7 linked regions of the Homo sapiens genome follow. The protein of the gene in region 1 purifies or fractionates together with the protein of each later gene. This does not show direct contact. Each region holds a gene or a part of one and is shown in the gene's direction. Other genes may lie near its edges. The genes, in order: QRSL1, CLPX, PNPT1, ACAD10, IVD, VWA8 and MTHFD1L.

The links.
Region 2: the proteins of QRSL1 (region 1) and CLPX purify together in Homo sapiens (affinity purification with mass spectrometry; one large-scale study listed by BioGRID and IntAct). This does not show direct contact.
Region 3: the proteins of QRSL1 (region 1) and PNPT1 purify together in Homo sapiens (affinity purification with mass spectrometry; one large-scale study listed by BioGRID and IntAct). This does not show direct contact.
Region 4: the proteins of QRSL1 (region 1) and ACAD10 purify together in Homo sapiens (affinity purification with mass spectrometry; one large-scale study listed by BioGRID and IntAct). This does not show direct contact.
Region 5: the proteins of QRSL1 (region 1) and IVD purify together in Homo sapiens (affinity purification with mass spectrometry; one large-scale study listed by BioGRID and IntAct). This does not show direct contact.
Region 6: the proteins of QRSL1 (region 1) and VWA8 purify together in Homo sapiens (affinity purification with mass spectrometry; one large-scale study listed by BioGRID and IntAct). This does not show direct contact.
Region 7: the proteins of QRSL1 (region 1) and MTHFD1L purify together in Homo sapiens (affinity purification with mass spectrometry; one large-scale study listed by BioGRID and IntAct). This does not show direct contact.

What each region holds. Positions count from the first base shown.
Region 1 is NC_000006.12:106,646,578-106,650,077, forward strand, and holds part of QRSL1 (glutamyl-tRNA(Gln) amidotransferase subunit A, mitochondrial), read left to right. Parts: intron 1-2,447; coding exon 2,448-2,624; intron 2,625-3,500. UniProt on the Homo sapiens protein: Allows the formation of correctly charged Gln-tRNA(Gln) through the transamidation of misacylated Glu-tRNA(Gln) in the mitochondria. The reaction takes place in the presence of glutamine and ATP through an activated gamma-phospho-Glu-tRNA(Gln).
Region 2 is NC_000015.10:65,161,343-65,164,842, reverse strand, and holds part of CLPX (ATP-dependent clpX-like chaperone, mitochondrial precursor), read left to right. Parts: intron 1-654; coding exon 655-814; intron 815-2,197; coding exon 2,198-2,239; intron 2,240-3,500. UniProt on the Homo sapiens protein: ATP-dependent chaperone that functions as an unfoldase.
Region 3 is NC_000002.12:55,683,845-55,687,344, reverse strand, and holds part of PNPT1 (polyribonucleotide nucleotidyltransferase 1, mitochondrial precursor), read left to right. Parts: intron 1-900; coding exon 901-975; intron 976-2,296; coding exon 2,297-2,402; intron 2,403-3,500. UniProt on the Homo sapiens protein: RNA-binding protein implicated in numerous RNA metabolic processes. Catalyzes the phosphorolysis of single-stranded polyribonucleotides processively in the 3'-to-5' direction. Mitochondrial intermembrane factor with RNA-processing exoribonulease activity.
Region 4 is NC_000012.12:111,692,553-111,696,052, forward strand, and holds part of ACAD10 (acyl-CoA dehydrogenase family member 10), read left to right. Parts: intron 1-144; 5' UTR 145-157; coding exon 158-344; intron 345-3,500.
Region 5 is NC_000015.10:40,408,795-40,412,294, forward strand, and holds part of IVD (isovaleryl-CoA dehydrogenase, mitochondrial isoform 1 precursor), read left to right. Parts: intron 1-1,833; coding exon 1,834-2,003; intron 2,004-2,465; coding exon 2,466-2,559; intron 2,560-2,760; coding exon 2,761-2,897; intron 2,898-3,500.
Region 6 is NC_000013.11:41,881,110-41,884,609, reverse strand, and holds part of VWA8 (von Willebrand factor A domain-containing protein 8 isoform a precursor), read left to right. Parts: intron 1-1,118; coding exon 1,119-1,223; intron 1,224-3,500. UniProt on the Homo sapiens protein: Exhibits ATPase activity in vitro.
Region 7 is NC_000006.12:150,872,202-150,875,701, forward strand, and holds part of MTHFD1L (monofunctional C1-tetrahydrofolate synthase, mitochondrial isoform 2 precursor), read left to right. Parts: intron 1-3,500. UniProt on the Homo sapiens protein: May provide the missing metabolic reaction required to link the mitochondria and the cytoplasm in the mammalian model of one-carbon folate metabolism complementing thus the enzymatic activities of MTHFD2.

The sequences.
Region 1 (3,500 bases):
GCTTGAGCCCAGGAGTCCTAGATCAGCCTGGGCAACATAGTGAGGCCCTGTCTCTACAGAAAAAAAAAATTAAAAAAAACAGGGAAAAGTATTAGTGACCTTGAATTAGTCAGAGTTCTTTTAGATAGGACACATGAAGCACAAATCCACTTAAAAAATTGATAGACTTGGCCGGGCACGGTGGCTCACACCTGTAATCCCAGCACTTTGGGAGGCCGAGGCAGGTGGATCACAAGGTCAGGAGATTGAGACCATCCTGGCTAACACAGTGAAACCCTGTCTCTACTAAAAATACAAAAAATTAGCCGGGCGTGGTGGCGAGCGCCTGTAGTCCCCGCTACTCAGGAGGCTGAGGCAGGAGAATGGCATGAACCCGGGAGGCAGAGGTTGCAGTGAGCCGAAATCACGCCACTGCACTCCAGCCTGGGTGACAGAGCAAGACTCCTTCTCAAAAAAAAAAAAAAAAAAAAAAAAAAAATTAATAGACTTCATTAAAATTAAGAACTTCTGTACTTTGAAATATGCTACTAAAAAAGTGAAAACGCAAGCCACAGACTGAGAGAAAAATATTTGCAAAACATGTATCTCAGAAAGAACCGATATCCAAAATACATAGAACATTTCACACCTCAATAAGAAAACAAGCAACCCTATTTTTAAAAAATGAACAAAAGATTTAAGAAGACGTTTCATCAGAGATTAAAACATAGTTGACAAACACATGAAACAATGCTTAATATCGTTGATCATTAGTGGAATTCAAAATTAAAATCACAGTGAGCTTGGGCACAGTGGCCCACACCTGTAATCTCAGCACTTTGGGAGGCCAAGGCATGGTAGTGGATGCCTGTAGTCCCAGCTACTCGAGAGGCATGAGAATCGCTTGAACCTGGATCACTTGAAACCGGGAGGCGGAGCTTGCAGTGAGCCAAGATCATGCCACTGCACTCCAGCCTGGGCAATAGAGCGAGACTGTCTCAAAAAAAAAAAAAAAAGAGAGAGACAATGATAATTAAATGGAAGACCTGACTCTAGATTTGATCCAGGAAGGAGATAAAATGCCATAAAGTACTTTTTTTTTTTTTTTTTTTGAGATGGAGTCTCGCTCTGTCACCCAGGCTAGAGTGCAGTGGCGCGATCTCGGCTCACTGCAAGCTCCGCCTCCCGGGTTCACACCATTCTTCTGCCTCAGCCTCCCGAGTAGCTGGGACTACAGGCGCCCGCCACCACGCCCGGCTAATTTTTTGTATTTTTAGTAGAGATGGGGTTTCACCGTGTTATCCAGGATGGTCTCGATCTCCTGACCTCGTGTTCCGCCCTCCTCGGCCTCCCAAAGTGCTGGGATTACAGGCGTGAGCCACTGCACCCAGCCAAAGTACATTATTGAATCAGTTGACAGAATTGAATTACATACAGTAGATTCGATAAAAGTATTGTAGGCCGGGCGTGGTGGCTCACCCCTGTAATCCCAGCACTTTGGGAGGCCAAGGCGGGTGGATTACGAGGTCAAGAGATTGAGACCATCCTGGCCAACGTGGTGAAACCCCGTCTCTACTGAAAATACAAAAATTAGCCCGGCGTGATGGCACGCACCTGTAGTCCCAGCTACTCGGGAGGCTGAGGCAGGAGAATTGCTTGAATCTGGGAGGCGGAGGTTGCAGTGAGCCGAGATCGCGCCACTGCACTCCAGACTGCCAGTAGAGCGAGACTCGTCTCAAAAAAGAAAAAAAAAATTATTGTATTGATATTAATGTTACTGAGATTGATAACTATACTGTGACTGTATAATGTGATATCCTTATTGTTAGGAAATACACACTAAAGTATTTAGGGATAAAGGGCTATGATATACATGTAAGTTACCCTTAAGATACCCTTAAGTTTCTATCATACTTTGTGTATATATGTACATATGTACAAACGTACACAGAGCACACAAGTAGTAAAGCAAAGGGATAAAATGTTGACCGTAGGTATGTCTGGGTAAAGGGTATAAAGTGCTTTATATGTTATTTTTATTTTTGCAATTTATCTGAGAATAAAATCATTTCAAAAATTTAAGTTATTAGCATTCCACTTGTAATGTTTTTCATAGAACTTCTGGTTCAGAAGTTCTTAACTGTTTGAATGTAACCCTTTTCAGCTGGAAGACCTTGATTCACAAGGGAAATCATCTTCAGTTGAATTGGATGATCAAAAGAGGCAAAATCTTTTCTTAGCAGATTAGCTTTGTCTATTTTCTACCACAAATGCTCTTCCTTCCCATCCTCCGCAACTGTCAATTAATGAAAGCTACATCTGAACAGGCTTCCCACCTTTTTCAATTCAAGCTACAGTGGGTTCTTAAATGCTCAATGAGTGTCAGAAGCAAATAATATACTCAGAAGATGAAATTTTCACATAAAATGAAAGTTTTACTAAGGTATCTTGCTTCACTTCGTCATCAGATCTGGGAGCACAGATGGTGTATTTGGACCAGTTAAAAACCCCTGGAGTTATTCAAAACAATATAGAGAAAAGAGGAAGCAGAATCCCCACAGCGAGAATGAAGATTCAGACTGGCTGATAACTGGAGGAAGCTCAGGTGGGAGTGCAGCTGCTGTATCGGCGTTCACATGCTACGCGTAAGATGCTTTTCTCTATCTGTATTTTAAAACCCACCCAAATACAAACAGTCATAAACTGTATCCAGCAATAGAGTAGTTCATATCCTGGTATTTTTCTTTCTAGTGAGCTATATGTGCTCAAAGGTATATCAAAATTATATCTTGAGTTGCACTCAACTGTACAGTACACTATGTATATTTAATACTTTTAACTTTAAAATAACAAATTTTTCTCCATAGTATCTGGTTCTCTTAAAATATGATTTTGTGGATCTTGCAGAATAAAGCATCGAACATAAATGAACTTCATTGCATTTCATTTTTAAATAATTTGAGTGTGTGCTCACTGATTATACAAATATTTAGGGACTAACATACAATGGCTTTAGTTGAGTGCTGCTGAACTAAACTGTTGGTAATGTTTATCCTTCAGCAAGATCAATCTTTTGAAAAAAAAGAAAAAATGCTAATATGTATTAATAAGATATTTTAAATAGTGTTTTCAGGAATCTGCAATTAAAAATGTACATCAGTAAGTAAAGTTTTTTCAAGCTTGTTAGGTGCTGATTCTGTTTATCTATCATACTTTGTATTTGGTAAGAATCCATTGATCATATTTTCAGTTCCATTTGTAAAGCATTTCTTAACTACCCAAAGAAAAGAAAGTAAATATGGCTGTTGCTGTGTTTATCAGTCTCAATTTAATCAAAATGAATGTGTTTCTTTAGTAATAGTTTTGTATTTTATCTCCCCTTAATTATCCATTAAAACTAAGTTCTTTCACACACATTGCAATCCATAAATCATTTATATTTTTTTAGAGCTATGGAGATGTGAGTTCTACAGATTTTTTTTCAGTTTTCCTAAAATCTTATTAACAAGTAAAACCATTTC
Region 2 (3,500 bases), on another chromosome or scaffold:
AGGAGTTCAAGACCAGCCTTGGCGACACAGTGAGACCCTGTATCAAAAAAAGAAAAAAATATATTTTTAGAAAATAAAAAAAAATAAGAATACAGTTTTTAGAGTCTCAGATAAATGAGTAGCTTTAAAGTTAATGTCTGAGAAAAAATTAAATTTACTAAAACACATAGATACTGATAGTATAATGGCTTTTGATTATGTAATGCCTGTTTCTGAAAAGAGTAGTTTTATAATGTTATCTTTGTGAAGAATGTTATTCATTTGATTGACAGGTATGGATTTATTTTAATGATTTACATTAATGTTGATACTTTTAGACCATGGTGGCATGTGTATGTATTCTAAGTTACTTTAAATTTAATTTGTTATCAAAAAATAAAGATTGATAGCATTGTTTATAGAATAGAAATTAGCACAACACTAGTAGAGTACAGTGATACTTTGTTAAGCTAGAGAACAAATGAATTGTGTTTTTGTTCATTTAGTGTTCAGGGCCTCTGAATCATTGCTATATAATGTATTGTCATTTTGTTTTTAATGAGAGTCTTTGTTCAGATTTAAAACTGTAAGCAAATATGCTTAGTAAATAACTTTTTAATGTGTGTGCTCTTATAATAGCTCATATTAAATTATTCATACCTAATCATTTTTCAGATTTATAACTACCTCGACAAGTATGTTGTTGGCCAGTCATTTGCTAAGAAGGTGCTTTCAGTTGCTGTGTACAATCATTATAAGAGAATATATAATAATATCCCAGCTAATCTGAGACAGCAAGCAGAGGTTGAGAAGCAGACATCATTAACACCAAGAGGTAGCGTTTTTGATAATTGACCTAAATAGAGATTGCTATGCTTAAAAGTAATCTTTATTTGTAACTCCTCACTTTCTTCTTAAAATGTTTTTTATATAGTGTGGCATTTTTCAAAGTGCAGGTTATTCCCCATTAGTGTGTTATGAAATCATTTGCCAACAGCATTTTTTAAAAATTTGATAGATATGAATAGAAAATAACAGAATACATTAACTTACAGTTAAGGTAAATATTATTTCTTAGGCCTGGCATGGTGGCTTATGCCGGTAATCCCAGCACGTTTGGAGGCCGAGGCGGGGGGATCACTTGAGGTCAGGAGTTCGAGACCTGCCTGGCCAGCATGGGAAACTCCGTCTCTACTAAAAATACAAAAATTAGCCAGGTGGGGTGGCACATGGCTGTAGTCATTATACAGTATACTGTATAATCTCAATTTACTATGGACAATAATGTATATTAATAGAATGATTTATTAAAAACAATTATGCATAGAGTAAATATGAATATTTAATTTTTTGTTTTGTTGGCCAGACAGCCCCAATTTCTGATTTAGGCCTATATTCCATCATTTTAGATTCTTTTAGTTATCACTGTACAGTGTGAAGGAGTTCTGCTAAGTACTTAAATTTATAAGTCTACATTATCTTTGATTGCCTTTAGTAGCAACTAAATGTATAATTTATTTCAATGAAGACACTTGTTCACTTGCTGAACTTACATCACATAACTGCAAAATAGGTATGTGATGGTATCAGTTATTTTTAGAAAGTATAAGTCATAACTAACGGATGACTTGGAACCTTTTTCTTTTTTTCAAGACAAGGTCTCTCTCTGTCACCCAGGCTGGATTGCGACTCACTGCAGCCTCAACTTCCCAGGCTCCAGTGATCCTCCCACCTCAGTCTCCCAAGCAATCCATCTGCCTCAGCCTCCCAAAGTGCTGGGATTAATAGGCGTGAACTCTTGCGCCTGGCCTGAAATCTTCATTTTTATAAGGTCCAAATAGCACTGATAGTTATGGAGCAAAACTTTTTTGTTTTCCTCGGTAATAAATAGATATTTAAGCTATTCTAAGTGCTGGAGGAGCAAATGGTTATAATATTTATAGCATGAGGGGCTTAAACTCTTATTAAAGACTTATGTTATTATACCCTTACAATAGATATCAATTATATATTTGACAAATGTGAATATTAGCAACTGGACAGCGGTCTTTATGCATGGTTTTGTTTTAATATAGAAAAGATATAGCATATATGAAAAGCTGAAAAATGTTAATGAACAAATCCTTTAAATATATTTGAAAGAGGACAGGAGGTGGGATACTCATTGTTTGTTCCCCCAAGGTAAACAAATATGTAATATTTTCATCCTCTTTCTTAGAGTTAGAAATAAGAAGACGGGAGGATGAGTACAGATTTACAAGTAAGTGACTTCAGGTCCTCCTCTGTAATCATTCTTCCTTTTGACATTTATTTCAGTGAAGTGTTTCAGCAGTAACAGTGATAGACATGTATGTATTTGCTTGTGTATTACCAAGAAAGATACGTATTATCTAAATGTGTTTATCCTACATGGTATATATAACTTTGGAATAGTTTTTCATAGCTAATTTGTGTCGTTTCCATATGTTGGGTTATTTTTTATTTTTTCTATCAAACTACAATTAGAGTTGGCCTGCTTCTTGTGGGTCACAGGAATTTGGGGGAGGCAGATTATTTTCTAGCTACTCTTTGCCAGAAAGCACACTGTTTTTTGGTTTTTTTTGTATTTATGAAACTTACAGTCTTACAAATTATGAGTAAGTCTTAATTCACTGTTTCCAGCCCCAGATTGCCCCTACAAGCATCAGATGGTCCGATGGAGGGTGTGGAAGGACTTGATAGACCAAGGAGAGTGGCCTTTCTGTTGTGTTCCACCTATTCCTTTGGAGGTGGATATAGTTAGTTGCTGCATTGAGGGTGGAGGTTCCAGGGGTGTCATAGAAAGATTCACATGGCCTTTTGTTTTAGTAATTGAAATAAAGAAAATTAGCTAAGTTTGATGTTTTTACATTTGCCTTTGAACCAAGTAGTATTATATATCCACTATTTGAAGTGTACTATATATAGGATGAGCCATGAGAATATAACTTGTGTACCAACTTGGGCATGACATTTATCACATGTAATAAAATTACATTATCCCCAGTTATTTTTAAATTTATAGAAATACTGATTATACCATGCGTGGTAAAATTAAGAAATACAGTAAGTGCAATAGAATTAGATTGTATATAAGAATGTAAAATCTAAATAATAACCTTTAGGTATATATGTAATTTATTTCATAATAAAAAAATATATTCAGATATGCAGTCAATACCATACTCATAAATTGTGTTGACAGCTAGTTAACCTATACTAAATTAGTAAAGAAAGTCTGTAGTGCATATTTTGAAAGACATGTCATGTAATATATGTAGTGATTTAATGTTATTTAAATGTTAACAAGTAACAGTATTTAAGAACTTATGTAAAAGATTGACTTAGAAACAAATATTTCAAAAGCTTAAATTTATTGTCATGTGCAGTTTTGTTGTGTTTTACATGGGATTTTAAGTTCTAAAGTTAGGTTGTTAACTAACACTGGCTGGGGGTGTTAGACCCTAACACTGGTCTAGGGTTTTAGACCAAAATCATGTACA
Region 3 (3,500 bases), on another chromosome or scaffold:
CCTCAGCCTCCCGAGTAGCTGGGACTACAGGCGTGCACCACCACACCCAGCTAATTTTTGTATTTTTAGTAGAGACGGGGTTTCACCATGTTGGCCAGGATGGTCTCGATCTCTTTTTTTTTTTTTTTTTTGAGATGGAGTCTCACTCTGTTGCCCAGGCTGGAGTGCAGCGGCGCGATCTCGGTTCACTGCAACCTCCGCCTCCCAGGTTCACGCCATTCTCCTGCCTCAGCCTCCTTAGTAGCTGGGACCACAGGCACCTGCCACCACGCCCAGCTAATTTTTTGTATTTTTAGTAGAGTCGAGGTTTCACCGTGTTAGCCAGGATGGTGTTGATCTCCTGACCTCGTGATCCGCCTGCCTCAGCCTCCCAAAGTGCTGGGATTACAGACGTGAGCCACCGCGCCTGGCCTGGTCTCAATCTCTTGACCTCGTGATCCACCTGCCTTGCCCCCGCAAAGTGCTGCAATTACAAGTGTGAGCGACCGTGCCCAGCCGTATTAAGTGACGTTTAACATCCTTTCCAAACTTGGGCTTCTGTTTTATGCGTTAATAAATTCTGTTGTGCTTTTCTAGAGAAAGTGATTTTGGTATTTTCTTCTATAGTAATAATTGGGGAATTTTTCCTTATGTATAGCCACATAAGAAGTAGAGAATACTATTCAATTCATTGAATATGACTAAATTACCTGTTAATCTTTCCTTATTTTGATTCCATAGCTTTTGAAAAGCTCAGAGATCAAGATTGGACTACTTGTGAATATTTTTTATTTCATAATCGTGTCGTAGAATTAGATATCTTTTCTTGAGTTTAATTGGAGTAAGGATTTATTCAGTTGCTACTTAGATGCTAATATCTGATTTCAAAGGAACTTACCAGCGTTGTTCTTTATGTTTAAGTCAGGTGACACTGCAGTAATGGTCACAGCGGTCAGTAAAACAAAACCTTCCCCTTCCCAGTTTATGCCTTTGGTGGTAAGTATTTGCTGATTTATCTGAACTGTAATATGGTCTGAGTAAAGTGTAGAATGTATAATATTTTTGTCCAGTGTCTAGTGAGTGGAAAATACAAACTTGCACAACAAAGAATTTTTCCTAGTTTTTTGATACTGATTCATTAAAAGAGTATAAACTGCTTCATAAACAAATACTAGGATTAAGCATACTTTAGAATTTGGAACGTCCAGGTGCGTAAGTTGACAAGAAGATTGGAAGTGCATGAGTACTTTGACATTGAATAAGCAATGAATTCATTGCCCTCATAGTTTCCCTTCAGTATGACTCTGCAAGTACAGTCAGCCCTCCATGTCCTTGGGTTTTGCATCCATGGATTCAACCAACCATGGATCGAAAATATTGGGGGAAAAATTGCATCTGTACTGAATATGTACAGACTTTTTTTCTTGTCATTCCCTACGCAATACGGTATAAAAACTATTTATGTAGAATTTACATTGTATTAAGGATTATATGTAATCTAGAGATGATTTAAAGTATATGAGAGGATATACGTAAGTTATAAACAAATACTATGGTGTTTTACATCAAGGATTTGAGCATCCATGGATTTTGATATCTGCAAGAGGTCCTAGAACCAATCCCCCAGGGATACCAAGAGACAACTGTGTATATTTAGTAATGAGCTCATGAGAATTTTATAGCTCCCTTCTATTATGAAAAGGGGTGTACAATTATATTTAACAGAGTTGATACCAAAAAAAAGCAATGTTTGACTTGATCAGAATGAGCATCTGTGGCAAATAGTGAGTCTTCTTCCACTTTTACTGTTGAGTAGAAGACTTTTTTTTTTTTAAGAGACAGGGTCTTGCTCTGTCACCCAGGCTAGAGTTGTTCAGTGGTGTGATCATAGTTCACTGCAGCCTCAAACTCCTGGGCTTAAGCAATCCTCCCACCTCAGCCTTCTGAGTAGCTAGGACTATGGGCACAGGCCATTGTGCCCAACTAATTTTTTTTTTGTTGGGGGTAGAGACAAGGTCTTTCTGTGTTACCCAGGCAGTTCTAAAACCCTGGCCTCAAGTGGTCCTCCTGCTTTGGCCTCCCAAAGTGCTGGGATTACAGGCGTGAGCCACTGCACCTGAACGTTTTTTAAAATCACTTTGCAGAAACATTTCTATCAACTTTCCTCTCCCCAAAAGATACAAAATGCTAAGTAAATAACATTTTCTACTCTGAGTCTAGACTGTGTTGTTAGCAACCTCAGGAGAATTAGCATTCATACAGTATAGTTTGTTTCTGCAAAAAGAATTATATGAACTTTTTTTTATTGCTGCTTCAGGTTGACTACAGACAAAAAGCTGCTGCAGCAGGTAGAATTCCCACAAACTATCTGAGAAGAGAGATTGGTACTTCTGATAAAGAAATTCTAACAAGTCGAATAATAGGTAAGATATTAACATAGAGGCGTTCATCTTCTCTGGTATGCCTATGTTAGCATCTCTTCTCTTGCATCTGTGTTCTACAATAAGTCTTAAGTTTTCCTTCATAGCATTAACACCACCTAAGATTATTCACTCCTTCTCTTCCCTCACTCAAATGTGGGCACTGTGAAAGAAAAAACTTTTATTTCTTCAGGGTTGAATCCCTAGTACCTGTTATACTGCTTAGCACAGAATAGGCATTCAATAAATATTTGTTGACTAAATGAGTAAATCTCTATTGAGCATATGAATTTTTTGGCCCATGCCTCTACTTTGTTGAATCTATTCCTAGTACATTTTTTCATGTTCAGAATAGTAATTCCTAAACATTATGTTCATCAGCTACTGAAATATGTCCATAATCTTTCAAATCTTTAACATCCCTACATATTGTGGGATCATATGTAATTTATAGCTCTTCTACCCAGAAATTGCTTTTTTTTGAGACAGAGTCTTGCTCTGTCACCCAGGCTGGAGTGCAGTGGCACGATCTCGGCTCACTGCAACCTCTACCTCCCGGGTTCAAGTGATTGGGATTACAGGTGCCCACCACCATGCCTGGCTGATTTTTGTATTTTTAGTCAAGATGGGGTTTCTCCATTTTGGTCAGGCTGGTCTTGAACTCCTGACCTCGTGATCCACCCGCCTCAGCCTCCCAAGTGCTGGGATTGCAGGCGTGAACCACTGTGCTCGGCCAGAAATTGCTATTTTATGTATATTTATATACAGTCTTCAGACACAAAGTAGCAAGGAAGCATTTTCTTTTGGTCTGCTATTGGTCTTAAGTCTCTTTGCTCTGCTTATATATGTAACTGTTGCCTGTGGAACCAGAATGAAAAATTGCTCCCCAATCTTTATTGTTAATGTGCTTCTTCTGTGTTTGTTTTTTGTTGTTAGGGCATGGTATGTAATAATGGAAGCACTGACATTTATCTGTGTCCCTCTTAGTAAATCAGTCCAAGGGGATTTTTCTTGAAAACATATTGAATGGCTATCTATATTAGTTCAAACGTTTTGAACTGTAAAGCAACTCTGTCAGTACGGTTTAATGTGTTTTTTTTT
Region 4 (3,500 bases), on another chromosome or scaffold:
CACTGAGGTCAGTTGTGGGTGTGATTCGAAGTGCCTGTTGGAGATGGGTTAGAGATGTCTGGCTGGCCCCTCTGAGCTCCAGGATGGAGGCCTGGTTGGGAGGCAGTGCAGGCAAGTAACGCCCTGTGCCTTCTTCCCACACAGCCTCAGCCTCACCATGTGTGTCAGGAGCTGTTTCCAGTCCCCCCGTCTCCAGTGGGTGTGGAGAACAGCCTTCCTGAAACACACCCAGCGCAGGCACCAGGGGTCCCACCGATGGACACACCTTGGAGGCAGCACCTACAGAGCGGTGATTTTCGACATGGGCGGAGTTCTCATTCCTTCTCCAGGGAGAGTCGCTGCAGGTGAGCTATTGATTCTGTTTCACTTTGTGGGACTAGAGTGGTGGTGGGAGAATGGAGGGTGATCGGGAAGGCAGAGGGGAACACTTGGGCAGCAGTGTGTCCCAGCAGGCCATGCTCTGGCTCTCGAGTCGAATTCCAAGCACCACTAGGGGGCTGAGTGTCTTGGGCGCATGATTCAGCTTCTCCAAATCTTACTTTCCTCATCATTAAATGAGCTAATGGTAGTGCCTTCCTCCTTGGGATTTGGCGGAGAGTTATCCGTGGGAAGCACTTGCTTAGCACAGTGATTGCTCAGTGCATCCTAAATTCTCAATCAATGATGAGCTGCCATGAATGCTGTGATTAGAATTTAACCACCAAGGCAGGGCACAGTGGCTGAAGCCTGTAATCCCAGCACTTTTGGAGGCCGAGGTGAGAGGGTCGTTTGAGCCCAGGAGTTCAAGACCAGCCTGAGCAACATAGTGAGACCCCGTATCTGCAGAAATTTAAAAATTATCTGGGCATGATGACAGGCACCTGTAGTTCTAGCTACTCAGGAGGCTGAGGTCGGAGGATCACATGAATCCAGGTGGTTGAGGCTGTAGTCAGCCGTGATCATGCCACTGCACTCCAGCCTGGGTAACAGAGCAAGACCCTTACTCAAAAACAAACAACCAAAAATCCCAAAGAATTTAACCACTTCTTCTTGGGAACTGTTCTACTTCTGAAATCTAGAATGCTGAAATTCCCCTTTTGATTACAGCCTTCCTCCCTTCTACCCCACTCCCTCTAAACCTGCTTCTGGACTGACAGGGTAAGGGTCAGCCCTCTGGTCTCTGGTCTTCTCTTTACCAGCCCCTTCCTGGTTTTACTTCTTTTCTACTCAGTTCAGTTTTTATTAGTTAAAGTCGTTTTGGCTTCAAGCAGTAGAAAACCTAACAAAACAGTGACTGAAACAAGCTAGAAGTTTCTTTCTCTTGCACATAAAAGCCCAGGTATGTGGTCTGGGGCACTGTGTGATGCGACTCTGTGGTATCAGGGACTCCGACTCTTTATAGCATGTTGCTCTGCTGTGACTTTTCATTTCCACTCTTACATTGTGGTCTGTCTTGGCTGTGTCGCCTCCTGCTATCATATTCTCATGCCAGCCAGCAGGAAGGACAAAGGGCCAGGCAGCCATCCCTCTCCTTTTGACCTTCTGTGGTGGCTGGTTGGCCAGTTCTCCATCCTAAATCAACCCAGGCACAGGTTTTCTATGCCTGCGTGTCTAGGCTTTCCAGCACTGCTGACCAAATTACTCAGCCGTGCTAACTGGCTGCACAAGCTGGTTTCTGAGCTCCAGCCTCAGTTGGGCCATTGGTGCTACGCCTGAGCCTCTCTGTTCCTTCACTCTTATCTCTCTGTTCCTTCACTCGTATCTCTGTCATGTTTACCTCAGGGGCTGTTCCAGACTGTCCACTCCCCCTGCTCCTTACCACCCCCAAATATTCTTGCTCTGCAGATAGCTGAATCTGTTCTTCTACAAAGAACATAAAGACTAAACCTGAGCAACACAGTGAGACCCTATGGTGAGCTAGGATTGCACCACTGCACCCCAGACTGGCACAACAGTCTTTTTTAGAGAACCTGTCTCTAAAAAAAAAGGCAGCAGGGAAGAACATAAAGATCACTGGACAGAAAGTTTCTTGACTTTCTCTAGAATATCTTAAGAACCAATTCACTTCTCTCCATTGCCACTGCCTCCACCCTTGCCTTCTCTCACCCAAATGATGTCATCAGCCTCCTAACTTCCTCTGCCTCTGGCTCTCTGGATTTTACAAAATCTCCTCCCAGCTCCAGAATTAACCTTTCTAAAACATGGATCGTGCTTCTGCGCTTAGCAGCTCACACCTGTAATCTCAGCAATTTAGGAGGCCGAGGTGGGCAGATCGCTTGAGCACAGGAGTTCAAGACCAGCCTGGCCAACCTGGTGAAACCTTGTCTCTACGAAAAATACAAAAAGCGTACCTGGGCATGGTGGTGCATGGATGTAGTCCCAGCTACTTGAGGGGCTGCGGTGGGAGGAACTCTTTAGCCTGGGCGATTGAGGCTGCAGTGAGCTGAGATTGCACCACTGCACTCCAGCCTGGGTGACAAAGTGAGACCCTGTCACAAAATAATAAATAAAATAAAAATAAAGCATAGATCTTGTTCCTTTCATCCCTGGCTTGAAAATCTTGAATGCCTGCATGTGGTCCCCTAGATTAAGTCTAGAAGCTTTCACCTGGGATTCAGGGCTCCTCTCAGTTTTAGCTTTCCTGCTATGGACTACCTGATGCTCCCCAGGCATGCCAGGCACATTTGCATGTTTGTGCCTTTGCAAGCTGTGTTTCCTCCCTGCCTCCTCTGCCTGTTCAAATCCTACTGATGCTTTTAATGGCAAATTTAAGGGGATATTATTCAGCAATGACTGGAATCTTTTGAACACTCAGTAAATCTCATGGTTGTTACTAACTTCAAGAGTCCTCTTCTGTCAAGACTTCTCCAACCTCATTTGCAACCTGGGCAGAATGTTCCTGGATAGCCAATTCCCATTAAGTTTCACCTTCACCGAGATATTTTTGTTTGCAGTGGGATATGTTCATGTCTCCTCTATGGGGCTCTTGGATTCCAGGACCCCAGGTCTGGGATTTCTTCACTTCACTGTTGCAGTGTTAGCTCTGCAGGCTGGCTCAGTCATTCAGGAAATGTTTGATGGGTAAATGTGAACAAAATAGTGATGCCTTCTACTTTGTCTTTTGCTTGACTGGAGCTTCTAATGTTATTTATTTCAAATGAACCATATCAAGGGTCATTTGATAAGAATATACTAGAATTGGCCAGGTGCGGTGGCTCATGCCTTTAATCTCAGCACTTTGGGAGGACGAGATGGGCGGATCACTTGAGGTCATGAGTTTGAGACCAGCCTGGCCAACATGGCAAAATCCAATCTCTACTAAAAATTCAAAAATAAGCGGGGCATGGTGATGGGCACCTGAAATTGCAGCTACTCTGGAGGCTGAGCAGGGAGAACCACTTGAACCCGGGAAACAGAGGTTGCAGTGAGCTGAGATCATACCATTGCGCTGCAGCTTGGGAGACAGAGCAAGACTCTGTCTCAAAAAAAAAAAAAGTATATATATATATACACTAGAATTA
Region 5 (3,500 bases), on another chromosome or scaffold:
ACAAAATTAGCTGGTCATGGTGGTACATCCCTGTAATCCCAGCTACTCGGGAGGCTGAGGCAGGAGAATTGCTTGAACCTGGGAGGCGGAGGTTGCAGTGAGCTGAGATTGTGCCACTGCACTCCAGCCTGGGCAACGGAGCGAAACTCCGTTTCAAAAAAAAAAGCCCAGCCTGCTTGGGCCTGTATTCACTCTGGGCATGAGAGTATGAGTGGAACCCAATATACTTCTCCTTACATCCTAGAAAGTTATATCACCTTTCATAAAATGAAACCACTTGAAGATTAATTGAAACCATCTTAATGTAAAAGCATTAGGGGAAAGGCTGCTGGGTACTCCTAAGCAAGACTCTCCTACTGTGTTTTGGGGGTTTATGTACCCCACTCCCTGCAGACAATATGCTTCTGAATCAGATTGTATTTTACGGAAGAAAGAGGCAGTTAGAAATCAGATGAAAATGGCCAGGTGTGGTAGTGGGCTCCTATAATCCGAGTGACTCGGGAGGCCAAGGCAGGAGGATCGCTTGAGCCCAGGAGTTCAAGGCTGCAATGAGCCATGGTTACACCATTGCACCCCAGCCTGGATAAGAGAGTGAGAGCCCGCCTCTTGAAAAAAAAAAAGAAAAGAAATCAGATGAAAACTCTTTCAAGGGAACCTGAAAAAGAAAGCTGGTTACAAGTTCTGGTTTCTGCATGATGTCATGGTGGCTGTTTCTAATGTCACCTGCCTTCAGGCTTTCCTTCCTGCAGTTGTAGGGGCAGGTCAAGGTTTCCTTAGAGCCTAGAACGAGCCTGACTTATTGGTCAGAGTGAACATGTGTATAGGACCTTGCTAGGCTTGACCCAATCAGCAGGGCTGGGGGTGGTATCAGGTGTCTCAGCCACTTGGAGTTTGGATCTGCTGCCAAGGAAAAACCGTATATTTTATGAGGAGTTCTGAAATTCTCTGCCAGCATCTCATCTGCCCTCTGCTGTACAGCTCACCTCAAGATTTTCCCTGAGGCTGTGGCTCTCCTGTCCTGTCACCAGTCCTGCTTCTTTCTTTTTTTTTTTTTTTTTTTGAGACAGAATCTCACTCTGTCGCCCAGGCTGGAGTGCAGTGGCGCGATCTCGGCTCTCTGCAAGCTCCACCTGCCAGGTTCACACCATTCTCCTGCTTCAGCCTCCCGAGTAGCTGGGACTACAGGCGCCCGCCACCATGCCCGGCTAATTTTTTGTATTTTTAGTAGAGACGGGGTTTCACCGTGTTAGCCAGGATGGTCTTGATCTCCTGACCTCGTGATCTGCCCACCTCAGCCTCCCAAAGTGCTGGGATTACAGGCGTGAGCCCCATGCCTGGCCTCCAGTCCTGCTTCTTTGGGTTCAGCCCTATGCTATAAAATCTCACCTTCCTCAGGCCTTTTGCAGACACATCAGATCCTCTGGCTTTGTATCTGTTCTTGGTGCTTTGGACACCACCTCCACCCCAATGCCTTTGTTTTTCTCCAGGCCCTCTTTCTTCATTTATTCATCTGCCTCTGCATTTCTGTAACTTTCTGAGTAGTGGGTGCTCAGGTTGTTCACGTATCTTCATCAAGAAGTCTGTCTGGGATAAAGCAGAAGTTGCAATGATTGCCTTCTGAATCACCCCTCAGCTGAGGAGCACCAGCAGGCAAAACCAGTCCACTGAGCTTGTAAGCAGGTCTGTGGCATCAGCTTATTCTTGTTGCTAGAGAGAATTTGGAGTAGGTGCTACAAGGTGCTTCCCTTCTGCCGTCAAATGTAAGATTCTTAATGAATGTCCCGATTTAATCTGGGCTGCGTTTTCCACTCCCTTGTACCACACCACTCACAGTTCAGTATGGCGGCTCCGGCCTGGGCTACCTGGAGCATGTGCTGGTGATGGAGGAGATATCCCGAGCTTCCGGAGCAGTGGGGCTCAGTTACGGTGCCCACTCCAACCTCTGCATCAACCAGCTTGTACGCAATGGGAATGAGGCCCAGAAAGAGAAGTATCTCCCGAAGGTGAGGAAATGGAAATGTAATACACGCTAATCTCACAGTGCAACCACCAACTAAAAGATACCCTCTCCCCTTGGGGGCCAGTCAGACCTGCTTTCTGTAGCATGCTGCCATGAACCAAATGTGGTTAGGAAGGGGCCATGGATTGCTTTAAAATACTTGAGCCAAAAATAATAAAAATAGGACCAGAACTCTTGCATTGAACAACAGACAGACAACATTTGAAGAGAACTCTAAGAAATGGAAGAGTAGGACTAGCTTCCTTTGCAAAGGGAATGGAAAAAGGAGAGGCATTTTCAGCCTTGTAGCCATTGGGCTTAGAAGAGACTTCTAGGACTTTACCGACACCCTGGTCTGAGAGCGAAGTTTGAAGGGGTTTAATGTGGACAGGAAGAGGCAGTACCAGTGAGCTGCTCTAGGGTACTCTGAGGTTGTAACAAGGCCTGTTGGGGGTTTTCCTTGCAGCTGATCAGTGGTGAGTACATCGGAGCCCTGGCCATGAGTGAGCCCAATGCAGGCTCTGATGTTGTCTCTATGAAGCTCAAAGCGGAAAAGAAAGGTGAGGCCACTCTCAACTTGGGAGCCAAAATGGGCAGAGGTACAGACATTATCAGGATAATGGAGCAACAATTGTGGGTGGCCCCTGCTGGGTTTCCAGAACTTTCTCAAAGGTGGACAGCTTCTTGCTCAGCAGAAGGTCTATGGCCTGGCTGAGACAGGCCAAGATGGCTTGAGCAAATAGCCAACATCCTGCCCTTAGGAAATCACTACATCCTGAATGGCAACAAGTTCTGGATCACTAATGGCCCTGATGCTGACGTCCTGATTGTCTATGCCAAGACAGATCTGGCTGCTGTGCCAGCTTCTCGGGGCATCACAGCCTTCATTGTGGAGAAGGTGAGTATAGGTGGGTGCAGGGCCAGGAGGCTTCTGCCTCCTGACAGTGGTACCAGAGATAGCCCGTTCACTGATCTCAAATGGAATCAGTGTTGTGTGCTCTGCAAGGCCCCCAGAGGTGGGGGTGAGGCAGAGAGCAGACTGCAAGGAGGGTGACCAAAAGTCCAGGAAGTCCAGGGCAGATGGGTCACTTCTGAAGACGGTGGAGCCGTCCTCAGCGCCAGGCCACACAAAGAGGTCTAGAAAGGGGAGGACTAAAAGGAGGTCAGGACATGACGGTCAGGGTACCATTGGTGGATCTGATGAATGTGGCCATGGGAGACTGAGGTGTGGGTGGGATGCAAGTGGAGACTGCCCCTGCAACAGCCTTGACAACAGAAGCAAGAAGGAAGCAGAGCAGGAGTTCCAATGAAAAGTTAGGAGTTTGGGTTTGTTTTTAGAAATGAGAGAACTGAGCAGATTTTTTGGTCAGAAGGAAAAAAAAGGGAAGAAAAAAGAAAATAGAGGGAGAAATTGAAAAGTGTGGGAATGAGTGGGCAGAACACAATGGTGAGCTGGGGCAGAAGAGAGAAGGATGGGTTACAGGTGATGGTGCAGGAACCA
Region 6 (3,500 bases), on another chromosome or scaffold:
GTTTGCATGTGCTTTTTTCTTTTTTTTTTTCCTGAACCATTTGGAAGTAAATTGCAGTCAGTACTCTTAAATACTTCAGTGTGTGTATCAGTTCGTTCTCCCGCTGCTATGAAGAAATACCTGAGACTGGGTAATTTATAAAGAAAAGAGGTTTAATTGACTCACAGTTCTGCAAGGCTATGGAGGCCTCAGGAAACTTACAATCGTGGTGGAAGAGGAAGCAAACACGTCCTTCACATGGTGGCAGGAGAGAAAAGTGCAGAGTGAAGGAGGGGAAAAGCCCTTTATAAAGCCATCAGATCTCATGAGAACTCACTATCATGAGAACAGCATGGAGGTTAACTGCCTCCATGATTCAGTTGTCTCCCACTGGGTCCCTCCCATGACACGTGGGGATTGTGGGAGCTACAATTCAAGATGAGATTTGGGTGGGGACACAGCCAAACCATATCAGTATGCAACTTCTAAGAATTAGGACATTCTTCTACATAACCAGAACAACATTATCACACTTCATATCATGTTAACAGTAATCCATAGTATCATCTAATAGATAGTTCATATTGAAATTTCACTAATCTTTCTTGTCAACAGACTTTTAAAGTGGGGTGAACAGAATTGACAGTGCAGATAATGTGAGGAAGGATTTGAGGATAATGAATACTTTCTAATTTTGTAGTTATAACTGTGAAGCTAAGTGAATGTGGATGAGATTAACTTAGGAATAAAAAGGGATCAGGTACTTTGGGATGAATAAGGTAGAGACATGTATTCTGTTTCAAATGGGGGTCTATGGGATATTCATATAGTCACATGTAATGAACAATTGAGGGTTCAGGTTTAGAGCTCAAGAAAGAAGTCAAGACCAGACATAGAAGTGTGGGAGCCATCAATACATAGAAGATAAATGAAAGATGGGAATGGGTAAGCTTACCCAGAGAAAGGGCAAGGAATGAGAAGAGAAAATAATGAATATTTGCTTTTGTAGACTTACAGAAAATACCAGACACCTATTGGTTACTTTTATAAGTCAATTTTAATGTCATATGTACATTTCAGATGTTTTCTGTGATTATTTTGAATTTTGCTCATTCCTATGTATTTTTGCTCCTACATAGGATTCCTTTCCTATGATGCCAATCAAACATGCAATCCAGTGGCTTTATCCATATAGTATTTTACTAGGTCATGAAGGGAAGATGGCTGTGGAAGGTGTTTTAAAGGTGAGTGTCTGCTTCCCTTTCTTTCCTTTCTTTTCCCATTTTCCCTTCCCTTGCCTTTTCCCATCTTCCCCTCACTCCTTTCCCCACCTTTCCTATTTTTCTCTCCCCATCCTTATTTCTTTCCTTTCCCTTCCCCTCCATTCTTTACCAGGCATGGAGGTATCAGCATTCCAACAAGAAGACAGCTGTGATAAATAGGGCAGCAAACACACAGGGGCTGGTGTGATTGGGAGATTGGTTATGTTGAGCAAATAAGTAAATAGATTGAGCAAATGAATGAATATATTAAGGATAATAAGAGTTATGCTTCTCACTGTTGGATGAGGGATTTATAACCATGGAAAGGGGGAAGGCAAGAAAAAACTCTAAGGTATTGGATTGGAATTGGTGTTATTATGAATCATGACTTTTTTTAAACAATATATATGAACAAATAGATAGAGATAGTATGTGTATATGTATACATACACATATTTTCTAGCTGTCTCCTAAGGCAGCCTAAAAACTATGATGTTCTCATATTTAGTTAAAAAAATAGGATTGCTCTCCCTCTCCCTCTCCCTCTCCCCACGGTCTCCCTCTCCCTCTCTTTCCACGGTCTCCCTCTGATGCCCAGCCGAAGCTGGACTGTACTGCTGCCATCTCGGCTCACTGCAACCTCCCTGCCTGATTCTCCTGCCTCAGCCTGCCGAGTGCCTGCGATTGCAGGCGCGCGACGCCACGCCTGACTGGTTTTCGTATTTTTTTGGTGGAGACGGGGTTTCGCTGTGTTGGCCGGGCTGGTCTCCAGCTCCTAACCGCGAGTGATCCGCCAGCCTTGGCCTCCCGGGGTGCTGGGATTGCAGACGGAGTCTGGTTCACTCAGTGCTCAATGGTGCCCAGGCTGGAGTGCAGTGGTGTGATCTCGGCTCGCTACAACCTCCACCTCCCAGCTGCCTGCCTTGGCCTCCCAAAGTGCCGAGATTGCAGCCTCTGCCTGGCCGCCACCCCGTCTGGGAAGTGAGGAGCGTCTCTGCCTGGCCGCCCGTCGTCTGGGACGTGAGGAGCCCCTCTGCCTGGCTGCCCAGTCTGGAAAGTGAGGAGCGTCTCTGCCCGGCCGCCATCCCATCTAGGAAGTGACGAGCGCCTCTTCCCGGTCGCCATCCCATCTAGGAAGTGAGGAGCGTCTCTGCCCGGCCGCCCATCGTCTGAGATGTGGGGAGAGCCTCTGCCCTGCCGCCCCGTCTGGGATGTGAGGAGCACCTCCACCCGGCCGCGACCCCGTCTGGGAGGTGAGGAGCGTCTCTGCCCGGCCGCCCCGTCTGAGAAGTGAGGAGACCCTCCGCCTGGCAACCGCCCGTCTGAGAAGTGAGGAGCCCCTCCGCCCGGAAGCCGCCCCATCTGAGAAGTGAGGAGCCCCTCCGTCCCGGCAGTCACCCTGTCTGGGAAGTGAGGAGCGTCTCCGCCCAGCAGCCACCCCGTCCGGGAGGGAGGTGGGGGTCAGCCCCCGCCAGGCCAGCCGCCCCGTCCGGGAGGGAGGTGGGGGGGTCAGCCCCCCGCCCGGCCAGCCGCCCCGTCCGGGAGGTGAGGGGCACCTCTGCCCGGCCGCCCCTACTGGGAAGTGAGGAGCTCCTCTGCCCAGCCAGTCGCCCCGTCCAGGAGGGAGGTGGGGGGGTCAGCCCCCAGCCCGGCCAGCCGCCCCGTCCGGGAGGTGAGGGGCGCCTCTGCCCGGCCGCCCCTACTGGGAAGTGAGGAGCCCTCTGCCCAGCCGCCCCTACTGGGAAGTGAGGAGCCCCTCTGCCTGGCCACCACCCCGTCTGGGAGGTGTACCCAACAGCTCATTGAGAACGGGCCATGATGACAATGGCGGTTTTGTGGAACAGAAGGGGGGAAAGGTGGGGAAAAGATTGAGAAATCGGATGGTTGCCGTGTCTGTGTAGAAAGAGGTAGACATGGGAGACTTTTCATTTTGTTCTGTACTAAGAAAAATTCTTATCCTGTTGATCTGTGACCTTACCCCCCCCCCCCCCCCCCCGGCAAAAAAAAACTATGATGTTCTAGTAGCAGTGATCATACCAAGTACCTGGACATTGGTTTCTAAATACCATGCTCTCTAAAAGGATTAGGTCAGGGAATGCAGAAGATGAGCCTGGACCATCTTTTTGTGCCAGAGAGTAAGGAAATATTCAACAAATGATGTCGATATGTCAAAATGATGGAGTTCCCAGGTTGAAGTGGCTGAAATCTGGGACAATTTGAGCATAAAAATAAATGATGATGGTAATTGGTTTTAACCTG
Region 7 (3,500 bases), about 44 Mb from region 1:
TGTATCCACGGGAGTAGCACTTTTAAATTTCTTCAATAGCTTTTCCTTTGCATTCACAGCTTGGCTAACTGTTTGGCTCAAGAGGCCTAGCTTTTGACCTATCTTGGCTTTCAATACACCCTCCTCACTAAGTTTAATTATTTCTCGGTTTTTATTTAAAGTGAGAGACCTGCAACTCTTCACTTGAACACTTAGAGGCCACTGTAGTTACTAATTGTCCTAATTTCAATATTGTTGTTTCTCAGGGAATAGGGAAGCCAGAGGAGAGGGAGAGAGAAGGGGGAACAGCCAGTCCAGTGAAGCAGTGAGAACACACACCATCATGAACCATCATGGCCACGGTTTGGCCAACACAATTACAACAGTAACATCAAAGATCGTCAATCACACATCACCAGAACAAACATACTAAAAATGAAAAAGTTTGAAATATTGTAAGAATTATCAAAATGTGACACAAATTGAGCAGATGCCATTGGAAAAATGACTCCCATAGACTTAAAACACAGGTTGCCACAAACTTTCAATTTGTAGAAAAACACAGTATCTGTAAATTGCAGTAAAGCAAAGCACAAAAAATGATGTATGCCTGTATTTTTTTTTCTATCCACATCCACCCCCCAACTTTTTTTTTTTTTTTGGTAGAGACCAGGTCTTGCTATCTTGCCCAGGCTGGCCTTGAACTCCTGAGCTCAAGTGATCCTCTCACCTCAGCCTCCCAAAGTGCTGGGATTACAGGCATGAGCCACTGCGCCCAGCCCCCATCCCCAACTATTTTAAAAGTCTAATTACTTTTTGACGATTGCCGACTTACCTATAGAAGTGTTCCTTTCAGCCCGGCGAGGTGGCTCACCCCTGTAATTCCAGCACTTTGGGAGGCCTAGGTGGGCGGATCACGAGGTCAAGAGATCGAGACCACCCTGGCCAACTTGGTGAAATCCTGTCTCTACTAAAAATACAAAAATTAGTGGGACGTGGTGGCATGCACCAGTAGTCCCAGCTACTCAGGAGACTGAGGCAGGAGAATCGCTTGAACCTGGGAGATGGAGGTTGCAGTGAGCCGAGATCGTGCCACTGCCCTCCAGCCTGGAAACAAAGTGAGACTCCGTCTCAAAAAAATAAAAAGAAGTGTTCCTTTCATCAACTATGAATGGATCAAGACTATGAATGTTTCTGAGAAAATTATTGCTGTTAGTAAGAATGTTTTTAGTGTTTAAGGGTAGCTTTGGGGCACAGAAAAAAACAAACGTACATTTATAAGAAAAAGGGGAAAGAGCCACTGTAGTATACCTGTTTTACAGATGAGGAATCTGAGACTCTTAGAGACTTGTCCACGCTAGTAAATGAAATGCCCAGTACCAATCCTGGGCCGTATTTCCACTTAGTGTCTCAGAATTACCTGGACTCTGTTAAAAATGCACATTTCTGGGCTCCACTGAGACACGTTGAATCAGACTTTCTAGGGCTGGAACTGTTATTTTTTTTGAGACAGAGTCTCGCTCTGTCACCCAGCTGGAGTGCAGTGGCATGATTTTGGCTCACTGCAGCCTCTGCCTCCTGGGTTCAAGTGATTCTCCTGCCTCAGCCTCCTGAGTAGCTCTGGGATTACAGGTGTGCACCACCATGCCTGGCTAATTTTTGTATTTTTACTAGAGATGGGGTTTCACCATGTTGGCCAGGATGGTCTCAAACTCCTGACCTCAAGTGATCCATTTCACCTTGGCCTCCCGAAGTACTGGGATTATAGGTGTGAGCCACTGCACCTGGCCTGGAACCTTTACTTTTACCAAACTCTCCAGTGATCCTTATACCATGAACCGCTTGGGTCCCACACTCCGGTGCTTTCCTGGACCCAGACAAAAATAAGAACCCAGCATAGCCAAATTAACAGTCACGACAGGCTGGAAAGAGTGCGGTATATGGGCCTCAGTCACCCATTATTGGATGGATGGATTTTAGTGCTTATTTATAAGGTGATTTGTAAACTTTCCCATATGGTCACATTTATTCAGCACAATAATACAATTAATTCCCTGGGAATGAAGTAGCTTTATCCCAAGTGTTTCCAAACAAAACTAACTGAAATGTTCCCAGGTTATAGACAGTTGCCTGCACCCAGTCCATCTGTTCCGGCCCAGCTGGCAGTAGAAAGACTGGTCCTGGTTGTGAATCTGAGCAGCTCTCTCCCCTAAAGCCCCGCCTGGGAACTGCAGTGCCTCTGGTTCCATTTGTCAGCTGTGTCTCTCTGAAAACTGGGGAAAGCTTCCCGATGCCTTTCTGCTCTTGGCAGTGTACCGTTGATGGCATTGGCTGGAACTTCTTCACCCCGCATTTTTGTTAGGTGCAGTGCAAGACCCTGTCGGAGACTGAAAACAAAATGTAAAGGTGGTCTTAGCACTGAAGCCTGGGGGCTCCTGTGGCTGCGCCTTTGGTCTATTGTGAGAGGGGGAAAAGCCAGCTCCCAGTGCTCATGTGCTGCTGAGAACATATCATAGGGTGGTGGCGAAGGTAGCCTCTGCAGTCACTCATCCCAGAAGGTTCCATAAAGAGCTGAGCTCCTAACACTTTTTTTTTTTTTTGAGACGGAGTCTTGCTGTGTTGCCCAGGCTGGAGTGCGGTGGCACAATCTCGGCTCACTGCAACCTCTGCCTCCCAGGTTCAAGAGATTCTCCCGAGTAGCTCAGATTATAGGCGCCTGCCACCACACCCAGCTAATTTTTGTATTTCTGGTAGAGACGGGGTTTCACCATATTGGCCACGGTGGTCTTGAACTCCTGACCTTGTGATCCACCCGCCTCAGCTTCCCAAAGTGCTGGGATTACAGGCGTGAGCCACCGCTCCTGGACTTTTTTTTTTTTTCTTTTTTTAAAAAGAAATTGAGTCTTGCTCTGCCACCCAGGCTGGAGTGCAGTGGTGCAGTCATAGCTTACTACAGCCTCAAACTCATGGGCTCAAGCGGTCCTCCAGCTTCAGCCTCCCAAGTATCTGGGACTACAGTCACGTGCCATCACGCCCAGCTAAATTGTTTATAGAGATGGGATCTCGTTATGTTACCCAGGCTGGTCTCAAACTCCTGGTCTCAAGCAGTCCTACCGCCTTGGCCTCTCAAAGTGCTGGGACTACAGGTGCATGCCACCATGCCAGGCCTTCTACCACTTTTACCTAGGCCTGCTCACCCCAGGCTGGCACCTCCCTCAGAGGTGGGAGGTGAAGGTGGCTGCTGCTGGGCATTTAGGAGGTACAGGTGCAGACTATGTTGTGGATTCTCAGAGGACTGAGAAGCTCTCTGTCTCTCTCTCTAGGAGGCTTTGATAGTGTTATCAAAGTGGGTCTCCAGTGTTTCTGGAACTTTCCTCCCCTTCCTTCCTTACCTAATTCCTTCTTTAAATTCCAGGACCTGGAATTTATCCTGTCTCGACACTTCTTGTCCAACAGTGAGCCCCCTGTCTTCACCCCCCTAATCCCCTGTCTTCACATCCCTCTTCCCACTTTATTTGCTT